Regions from separate parts of the Homo sapiens genome. Here region 1 is linked to region 2. The links come from fine-mapping of genetic effects on gene expression. A gene starts in region 2. The other region holds a variant in brackets. All regions are shown on one strand. Distances are from middle to middle. Region 1 has its middle 6.0 kb from the start of ACP5. Region 2 holds the start of ZNF491 (zinc finger protein 491).

Region 1 (5,374 bases), 230 kb before region 2:
GAACTCCTGATCTCAAGTGATCTGCCCGCCTCAGCCTCCCAAAGTGTTGGGATTACAGGTGTGAGCCACCACCCCTGGCCAGGATTGCATTTTGGAAAGATCACTGCTTAATTATAACAGTTGGCCAGACATGATGGCTCACACCTGTAATCCTGCATTTTGGGAGGCTAAGGAGGAAGAATCACTTGAGGTCAGGAGTTTGAGACCAGCCTAGGCAACATAGCAAGACCCCATCTCTACAAAACACACACACACAAAATTAACCAAGAGTGGTGGGGTGAAGCTGTGGTCCCAGCCACTCAGGAGGCAGAGGCAGGAGGATCCCTTGAGCTCAGGAGGTGGAAACTGCAGTGAGCTATGATTACACCATTGCACTCCAGCCTGGGCAACAGAGTGAGACACTGTTTCAAAAAAAACCAAAAAATTGTAACAGTAACACATACACCTTGTAACAAATTCAACAGTATTGACATCTATAAAGTAGCAAATTATACCAAGATACACACACACACACACACACACACACACACACACACGCGCGCGCGCAAAGTAACAAATAAGCCGGAGCAGTAGCTCATGCCTGTAATCTCAGCACTTTGGGAGGCCTAGGCGGGTGGATCACCTGAGGTCGGGAATTCAAGATCAGCCTGACCAACATGGAGAAACCCTGTCTCTACTAAAAAATACAAAATTAACCAGGCGTGGTGGCGCATGCCTGTAATCCCAGCTACTCAGGAGGCTGAGGCAGGAGAATCGCTTGAATCTGGGAGGCAGAGGTTGCTGTGAGCTGAGATCACGTCACTGCACTCCAGCCTGGACAGCAAGAGGGAAACTTCTTCTCAAAAAAAAAAAAATAAGTAAAATAACAAATGAAAGGTGACAATTTCACCAAGTGCCTCTCCCCAGAAGTAACCTCAGTTACTTTTTTTTTTTTTTGAGATAGTCTCCCAAACTGGAGTGCAGTGGCGTGATCACAGCTCACTGCAGCCTCCACTTCCCAGACAAGAACGATTCTCATGCCTCAGCCTCCCAAATAGCTGGGATTATAGGCATGCATCACCAGGCCTGACTCATTCTTTTGTATTTTTTAGTAGAGGTGGGTTTTTGCCATATTGGCCAGGCTGGTCTTGAACTCCTGTCCTCAAGTGATCTGCCTGCCCCTACCTACCAAAGTGCTGGGATTACAGGCATGAGCCACTGCACTCAGCCCTGTTTACATTTTGTCCAGATTCATTTCACTCCGCTAGGCAGGCAGCTGGAGCCAAACAACTGGGTCCCTGCCGTGTAGCAGTTGCAAGTGGCGGTTGAGGGTGGGCCAAAGGAGGGGTTCCTGTGCCTTGCCTAGCGCTAATGGCCTGGGTTGCCTGGGGGTGGGTGTTACTTAACTCTCCCTCAGAGGGGAACTGGGCTCCCCTGCAACTGTCACATCAGGTCTAGCACTCTGCTTTCAGTATAAGAAAAACAGGCCCTGAGATTTTTTTTTTTTTTTTTTTCCCCTGAAACGGAGTCTCATTCTGTTTCCCAGGCTGGATTGCAGTGGTGTGATCTCGGCTCACTGCAACCTCTGCCTCCTGGGTTCAAGCGATTCTCCTGCATCAGCCTCAGTAGCTGGGATTACAGGCACGTGCCACCATACCCAGCTAATTTTTTGTATTTTTAGTAGGGATGGGGTTTCACCATGTTGGCCAGGCTGGTCTCCAACTCCTGACCTCAAGTGATCTGCCTGCCTCAGCCTCTCAAAGTGCTGGGATTACAGGTGTGAGCCACTGTGCCCAGCCCTGAGATAATTCTCCTTCTAGAAGTTTTCTTACACATTACTTTCACAGCATTGGTCCAGGGACCACCACTGCAGCCTTGTTGGTAAGAGGGAAACAATTATTTATTTATTTATGTATTTTGAGAAAGAGTCTCGCTCTGTTGCTCAGTCTGGAGTGCAGTGGCGTCATATCGGCTCACTGCAACCTCCGCCTCCCGGGTTCAAGCAATTCTCTGCCTCAGCCTCCCAAGTAGCTGGGACTACAAGCACACGCCACCATGCCCAGCTAATTTTTGTATTTTTAGTAGAGACGGGGTTTCACTATATTGGTCAGGCTGGTCTCAAACTCCTGACCTCAGGTGATCCACCTGCCTCGGCCTCTGAAAGTGTTGGGATTACAGGTGTGAGCCACCATGCCTGGCCTAGAAGGAAAGATTTAAAAAGACCACGGCTGGGTGCGGTGGCTCACGCCTGTAATCCCAGCACTTTGAGAGGCCGAGGTGGGTGGATCATGAGGTCAGGAGTTCAAGACCAGCTTGGCAAAGATGGCGAAACCCCATCTCTACTAGAAATACAAAAATTAGCTGGGCATGGTGGCGTGTGCTTGTAGTCCCAGCTACTTGGGAGGCTGAGGCAGAGAATTGCTTGAACCCGGGAGGCGGAGGTTGCAGTGAGCCAAGATCGTGCCACTGCACTCCAGCCTGGCTGATGGAGTGAGACTCCATCTCAAAAAAAAAACCTCAATGAGGC[T/C]GAGCACTTTGGCACTTTGGCTCACGCCTGCAATCCCAGCACTTTGGGAGGTTGAGGCAGGAGGATCACCTGACCCTGTGAATTTGAGGCTGCAGTGAGCTATGATCCTGCCATTGCACTCTAGTCTGAGTGACAGAGCAAGATTCTGTCTCTCAAAACAACCCCCAAAACCAATAAAATCCTGCAAGGGGCACTAGCAAGGAGCCAGTGACATAAGGCAGAAGCTTCGTGGCTGTCAAAAAGAAGTGCGATCTTTTTCCTTGTTCCTGGGAATCCTGCAAACATGTCTGCCCCATAGGTAATGCGTAGACAAGGTCATTTGTTATGACATTGAGGATTGCAAAATTGTTCGAAGTGTTACAGGAAAGGGGTCTCGATCCAGACCCCAAGAGAGCATTCTTGGATCTTATGCAAGAAACAATTCAGGACTGGGCACAGTGGCTCATGCCTGTAATCCCAGCACTTTGGGAGGCCAAGGCAGGTGAATCACCTGAGGTCAGGAGTTCAAGACCAGCCTGACCAACATGGTGAAATGCCGTCTCTACTAAAAATACAAAATTAGCCAGGCATGGTGGTGGGGGCCTGTAATCCCAGCTACCTGGGAGGCTGAGGCAGGAGAATTGCTTAATCGGTTGAACCCAGGAGATGGAGGTTGCAGTGAGCCAACATTACACCCATGTACTCCAGCCTGGGTGACAGAGTGAGACTCCATCTCAAAAAAGAAAAAAAAAAAAGTGGAGTGCAGTAACGGGAATGTGTGCAGAACTATGTGTATATTGTGTTGCTTTTGGTGTAAAAAATGGGAATGTGTTTGCAGTGGCATGCCCCTGTAATCTCATCTACTCGGGAGGCTGAGATGGATCACTTGAGCCCAGGAGCTCAAGACCAGCCTGGGCAACATAGCAAAACTCTGTCTCTGAAAAACAGTCTGGAAGCAATAGCTCATGCCTGTAATCCCAACACTTTCGGAGGCTGAGGCAGGAGGATTGCTTGAGCCCAGGAGTACAAGACCGGTTTGGGCAACAGAACAAGACTCCCATCTCTACAAAAAAAAAAAATCTAAAAATTAGTTAGGAGTGGTGGTGCGTGCCTGTAGTCCTAGCTACTTGAGAGGCTAGGGTGGGAGGATTTCTTGAGCCCAGGAGTTTGAGGCTGCAGGGAGCTATGATTGCACCACTGCACTCCAGCCTGGACAATATAGCAAGACCCCTCTCCCTAAAGAAATAATAGGCCGGGCACGGCGGCTCACGCCTGTAATCCCAACACTTTGGGAGGCTGAGGCGGGCAGGTCATGAGGTCAGGAGATTGGGACCATCCTGGCCAACATGGTGAAACCCCATCTCTACTAAAAATACAAAAATTGCCAGGCGCGGTGGCTCACTCCTGTAATCCCAGCACTTTGGGAGGCTGAGGCAGGCGGATCACGAGGTCAGGAGATTGAGACCATCCTGGCTAACACGATGAAACCCCATCTCTATTTAAAAATACAAAAAACGAGCCGGGTGTGGTGGCAGACGCCTGTAATCCCAGCTACTTGGGAGGCTGAGGCAGGAGAATGGTGTGAACCCGGGAGGCAGAGCTTGCAGTGAGCCGAGATCACGCCGCTGCACTCCAGCCTGGGCGACAGAGCAAGACTCCATCTCAAAAAAAAAAAAAAAAAAAAAAAAAATTAGCTGGGCGTGGTGGCGCGTGCCTATAATCCCAGCTACTCAGGAGGCTGAGCCAGGAGAATTGCTTGAATCTGGGAGTTGGAGGTTTCAGCGAGCCGAGCTCACGCCACTGCACTCCAGCCTGGTGACAGAGTGAGACTCCATCTCAAAAAAAAAAAAAAAGAAAAAAAAAAGAAAATAATAAAGGGAATGTTTTGATTATGGAGGCATAGACTATATAGAGAAAGAAAATGATTAATATTAGTTGCCCCTGGGGTGGAGGAAGACTTGCTTTATGTTGTACCCTTCTTTCTGCTTGGATTTTATTGAATTAATTTTTTTTTTGAGACAGAGTCTTGCTCTATCACCCAGGCTGGAGTGCAGTGGCACAATCTCAGCTCACTGCAATCTCCGCCCTCACCTCTCCACCCCCTTTACCCGCAAACCCCCTAGGCTCAAGTGATTCTCTCGCCTCAGCCTCCCAAGTAGCTGGGATTACAGTCATGTGTCACCACGCCTAGATAAGTTTTGTATTTTTAGTAGAGATGGGGTTTCACCATGATGGCCAGGCTGGTCTTGAACTTCTGACCTCAAGTGATCCGACCACCTAGGCCTTGCAAAGTGCTGGCATTACAGGTGTGAGCCATCGTGCCTGGCCTATTTTATTTACTTATTTTTTTTGAGACAGATTCTTGCTCTGTCACCCAGGCTGGAGTACAGTGGCACAATCTCAGCTCATTGCAACCTCCGCCTCCTGGGTTCAAGCAATTCTCCTGCCTCAGCCTCCTGAGTAGCTAGGACCATAGGCTCCTGCCACCACAACTGGCCAATTTTTTTTTTTCAGGCAGAGTTTAACTCTTGTTGCCCAGGCTGGAGTGCAGTGGCGCAATCTTGACTCACTGCAGCCTCCACCTCCCAGATGCAAGTGATTCTCCTGCCTCAGACTCCCAAGTAGCTGGGATTACAGGCACTCGCCAGCAAGCCTGACTAACTTTTTGTATTTTTAGTGGACATGGGGTTTCACTATGCTGGCCAGGCTGATCTTGAACTCCTGACCTCAAATAATCCACCCGCTTTGGCCTCCCAAAGTGCTGGGATTACAGATGTGAACCACTGAGCCTGGCCTCTGCTTGGATTTTATTTTTTTTTTATTTTTTATTTTTTTGAGATGGAGTCTCGCTCTTTCACCCAGGCAGGAGTGCAGTGGCGCTATCTTGGC
Region 2 (5,374 bases):
AATTTTTTTATTGCTGATTCAATATTGCTACTTATTATTGGTCTATTCAGGATATCTGTTTCTTCTTGGTTCAATCCTGGGAGGTTATACGTTTCAAAAAAACCTATAGGTTTTCTAGGTTGTGAGCATATAGTTGTTCATAGTAGTCTCTGATGGTATTTCTGTGGTATTGGTGTAATGTCTTCTTTTTCAATTCTGGTTTTGTTCATTTGAATCTTCTTTTTTTTCTTGGTTAGTCTAGCCAGCAGTTTATTACTTTTGTTGATATTTTCAAAGAACCAACTTTTTGTTTCGTTTATCATTTGTGTTGTTTTTTAGTCTTGATTTTGTTTAATTCTGCTCTGATCTTTGTTATTTCTTTTCTGCCAACTTTGGATTTGTTTTGTTCTTGTTTTCCTAGTTCCATGGGGTACCATGTTAGGTTGTTAATTTGTTACTTTTTTGACAGAGGCATATAATTCTATAAACTTCCCTCTTAGCATGACTTTTCCTATATCCCAGAGGTTTTGATATGTTGTGTTGCCATTTTTGTTCATTTCAAACAAAATTTTTATTTTCTGTTTTTATTTCTTCTTTGACTCAGAGATCATTCAGGAGCACATTGTTTAATTTCCATGTATTTATACAGTTTTCAAAGTTCCTCTTGGTATTGATTTTTAGTTTTATTCAGCAGTCTGAGAAGATGCTTGAAATGATTTTGACTTTAAAATTTGTCGAGACTAGTTTTGTGGCCTAACATATGGTCTACCTTGGAGAATGTTTCACGTACTGATGAGAAGAATGTATATTCTGCAGTTGTTGGGTTCTGTAAACGTCTGTTAGCTCCATTTGGTCCAAAGTCCAACTTAAGTCCAATTTTTTTGTTGATTGTCTGTCTTGATGATATATCTACTACTGTGTGTGAGGTGCTGAAGTCCCATACTATTATTGTATTGCTATCTATATCTTTCTTTAGGTCTAGAAATATTTGCTTTATTAATTTGGCCTCTCCAATGTTGGATGCATATATATTTAGTATTACTATATTATCTTGCTGAATTGATTCTGTTATCAGTATCTCATGATCTTCTTTGTCTTTTTGTACTGTTTTTTATTTAAAGTCTATTTTATCTGATACAACTATCACAACTCTTGCTGAAGCACAGTGGCGAGATCATAGGTCACTGAAGCTTCAAACTCCTGGGCTCAAGATCTTCCCACCTCAGCCTCCCGAGTAGCTGGGACTACAGGTTCAGGACACCACGCACTGCTAATTTTTAAATTTTTAGTACAGACGAGGTGTGGCTCCGTTTTCCAGGATGATGAACTCCTGGGTTCAAGCAGTCCTCCCGCTTCAGCCTCCAAAAGGGTTGGGATTATAGGCGTGAGCCCCCGCACCCTGCCTGCAAGTCTTTTAATTCACTTCAATTATCTTAGAATTTTCCTTCCCCACTTTATACATACGTACAGTGGAACTGAGGGTGTTTGTCTCAGGTAACCGATCAATGAAGTGAATAACCTGTAGGGGGCAGCAGAGCCTAAGGCCAGTGACACCCTGCTGAGGCCAGTCTGGAGCCGGCAAAGGGAGGGAAAGGGAGCTCCCCTGGGTGTTTCCCGGGCAGCCTGCCCTCTACTGCAGGTGGCCTCCAGCTGCTCAGAACAGCTGCGGAAGGAATGTGGATCCTGAGAAGCTACAGAGCCCTGGAAAGCAGGAGACTCACGTGCAGGTGCACTTTGTGTAGGGGGGTTGGGGGGAGGTTCTGTCCTTACTGGGGCTGTACCTAGAGCCTAGGGACGTTTTGCGGGGGCAGTGTTTGGTTTTTACGTGCAAAGGGTCCCGGCGACAGACTGTAATTTGTACATACAAAGATAATCTGTGAAGATCAGGCTCAGTAAGATTTGTCTGACATGTCACCTGGAGAAAGGGTTTGTGAAGGTAATAGTTTACTTAGGTTAGAAGCTTAAACTGACCCCAGGTGAGAACTTCTGCTGGTGAAAATGAAGTCTAGGGGGAGGAAGCGGTTCCATATTCAGGGGTGGGACGGGGGGAGTGTGAGGAAGTCTCATCCCCAATTCCCGCCCTGTAGAGGACACCTGCCTCTCCCTCCTGGTGCAGTCTTGCCTGGCCTGGCCTGGCCTGGATTTCCTTCCTGCTATGAGGCAAAGGAATGACTCCATTGAACACCGAGTCTGGAATTCCCAGCACACATTTCTGAAAGATCGAGGAAGCTAACAGTGCCCCTTCTAACAATAAGTAGCAAGTTTGGCTGAAATGCAGATAGCCAACGACCAGGGCGCAGGGAGTGAGCTTAGCCTTAGAAAGGCTGTAGCTAGGATTAATCAGCCGGGCTCTGCAGGGCTCCGTTACCCAGGGCTTACCCTGTCACTCAGGGCTGAGGGGCGGAGCCTGGAACCCCATCCAATCAGGGGCCCTGGGACGGGGCCCTGCCAACTGTCAATCCGGGGAAGCAGAAGGCCGCACTCAGAGTCTCTGCACTCCTTTGTTGCTGGGGTCCGTTGCGTTCTGCATCCAGTCCTTGCTGCTCCGAGAGGCCCCAGGTGCCTCCGCCACGGCTCCTGTGACGCTGTCACCTGCGCTGTGACCTGCTCCGGAGTCATAAAGAGGACGCCGGGACACCAAGAAGCAGGGAAATGGTAAAGTGCCCGGCCTAGCGTCCAGATACGTGGAAGAGGGGCTGGGTGGAACCAACAGGATCCTGCTGTGGCGGGACCCAGGCCTCCGCTCGGGCGACCCCGGCGATTGGGACCCGCGTCCCCCATGGCGTGGCTTGGCCCTCGGTCCGCTCGGCCGCCAGGTGGGGCTGGGCCCGCAGCTGGGACCCCGGGCGTCCTGTCCCGTCCCTACGCGGCGACTGCGGCCCCGGCCCCGGAGTCCTCTCTGGGCAGCTCCGCGCCCGCAGCCCGGCGTCTTCCCAGATTGTGCGGGGGCCACGGGAGGGTCATGGGGGGTCGGATGTGTCCCGCCTTTCTTCTGCTAAAAATTAAACTGAGGCTCTGTTAACAGTTAAAGAGTTTGTTGGAGCAACAGCGATTCCGAGTGAGAAACACCCGGTCATGGCTTGTGATTGAAGAAAAGGCTTTTATAAGTTGCATGAGGAGGCAAACAGGATTAAATACTTGATTAGTTACAGTGATGCTGTCGCCGTATGTGGACTTGTCAACCTGAAATAAAAGAATCAGATTCCAGTTTTTTAAAGTTTACTCAAGCAAGAAGCTGGGAATGGCCCATTTGGGAAAACACAGGATCCACGGAAATGGGCTCAGTGTTTCAAATTTAAAAGTTTAAGTTCTTGCTTATATAGGCAAGAAATTTAACAGGATTACAACGTTTTTTATACAAGGCTAGTTTGTGAGGCACAACAATTTAATCAGAGTTTGGCCCGCCCCCCTCCCCCCGCCCCCATAGAGCTTTTTTTTTTTTTTCTTTACATTTGGGTTTCATTTCCTTTCCAATTTAAAAGAGTATATTTAACATTCCAGCGTAAGGCAAGGTGATGCCAGCGTGGACAACATGGCGAGACCCCGTCTGTACAAAATATTTTAAAAAATTAGTCGGGTATGGCCGGGCGCGGTGGCTCACGTCTACAATCCCAGCACTTTGGGAGGCCGAGGCGGGCGGATGACGAGGTCAGGAATTCGAGACCATCCTGGCCAACATGGTGAAACCCCGACTCTACCAAAAATACAAAAATTAGCTGGGCGTGGTGGCACGTGCCTGTAATCCGGCTACTCGGGAGGCTGAGGCAAGACAATCGCTTGAACGCAGGAGGCGGAGGTTGCGTGAGCCGAGATGGTGCCACTGCACTCCAGCCTGGCGACAGAGCGAGACTCTGTTAAAAAAAAAAAAAATTAGTCAGGTATGATGGCCGCTTCTGTAGTTAGTCTGGAGGCTGAGGCAGGAGAATTGCTTGAGCCCAGGAGGTGAAGGCTGCATCAACGACAGTATTGAATTTACAGCTAATAGGCAAGGTGAGGGAGAGGATGGAAGTTGGTTTAGTGTCAAGAATTAGGGAAGAGATTGTCAAACGTAGGGAAAAGGGACTTGATTGGATATCAGGTTTGGGGGAATTTTCTCTAAACTCCCTTAGAAGGGTTTTTGCTACCACAGGGCTCTGCAGGAAAAGGCCAAAGTCTACTCAAGAAGAGGGGGGCTCTGAGGAGCCTGACTAGTTTGATCAAAGAGGGAGTTTTTGGGACCCCTCTCCCAGCCTAGTTCTTCCCAGGTATGACAGTAAATCCCTAAATTTCTGGTTTTCTCCTCACATTCAAAAACACCAACTTCCCCTCGCCAATTGACATCCTTATCAATTATGTGTTTCCCATGCTACATTTGAAACAGCTGCCATATTTTATCATTTTTCCACAGACAAATGAATAGCACTATTTAAAAATGTTATCAACACCTCTGAAAATAAGGAAAACTTTTTTTTTTTTTTTTTTTTTGAGACAGTCTCACTGTGTCTGTTGCCCAGGCTGGAGTGCAATGGTGCTATCTTGGCTCACTGCAACCTCGGCCTCCTGGGTTCAAGCGATTCCCCTGCCTCAGCCTCCCAAGTAGCTGGGATTACAGGCATGTGCCGACATGCCCGGCAGATTTTTGTATTTTTAGTAGAGACACGGGAAAGAAAACATTTTTTAAAAATTTTAGTCCAGGCACAGTGACTCACTCCTGTAATCCCAGCACTTTCAGAGGCCCAGGTGGGAGGATTGCTTGAGCCTAGGAGTTCAAGACCAGAGTGGGCAGGGCAACATAGCAAGATCTCATCTCTACTGAAAACAACCAAACAAAATAGCTGGGCATGGTGTCATATTCCTGTAGTCTCAGCTACTATACTCGGGAGACTAAGGCGGGAGGATCGCTTGAGCCCCGAAGATCCAAGGCTGCAGTGAGCCTTGAGGGCACCACTGCACTCCAGCCTGGGAGACAGGGTGAAAATTTTCCTCAAAAAAACAAAAACTTTAGGGCTTGGCATGCTGGCTTACACCTGTAATCCCAGCACTTTGGCAGGCCGAGGTGGGAGGATCACTTGAGTCCAGAAGTTTAAGACCAGCTCAGCAACATAGAGAGACCCCGTCTCTATTAAATAAATAAATAAAATTTTAAAAAGAAAAAAATTATATTTTGTTTATGAATATTTTTTATGAGAGGAAACTATTCAGTAACTACCCAAAATGACATTGGGTAAAACTCCATGGCTGATTCTTGACATTGATCATCTTTTCATGTGTTTGTTGGCCATTTGTGTATGTCTGGGAGAAATGTCATTAAAATCCATTGCTTGGCTGGATGTGGTGGCTCATGCCTATAATCTCAGCACTTTGGGAGGCTGAGGCGGGTGGATCATGAGGTCAGGAGTTCAAGACCAGCCTGGCC

The links.
Region 1: its variant is fine-mapped to the expression of ZNF491 in T cells (TOPMed, PIP 0.99).

Annotation. Positions count from the first base shown.
Region 1 is chr19:11,568,928-11,574,301 of GRCh38, forward strand. No RefSeq gene overlaps it. Among named protein-coding and RNA genes, the nearest start is that of ACP5, 6.0 kb to the right of the region's middle. The variant T/C (reference allele first, on the strand shown) is at 2,507.
Region 2 is chr19:11,796,094-11,801,467 of GRCh38, forward strand. It overlaps ZNF491 (zinc finger protein 491), which reads left to right and starts at 2,430. Exons shown (of 3, transcript NM_152356.4): 1 at 2,430-2,634. RefSeq lists a silencer at 1,422-1,591 and enhancers at 1,685-2,196, 2,422-2,521, 2,532-2,691.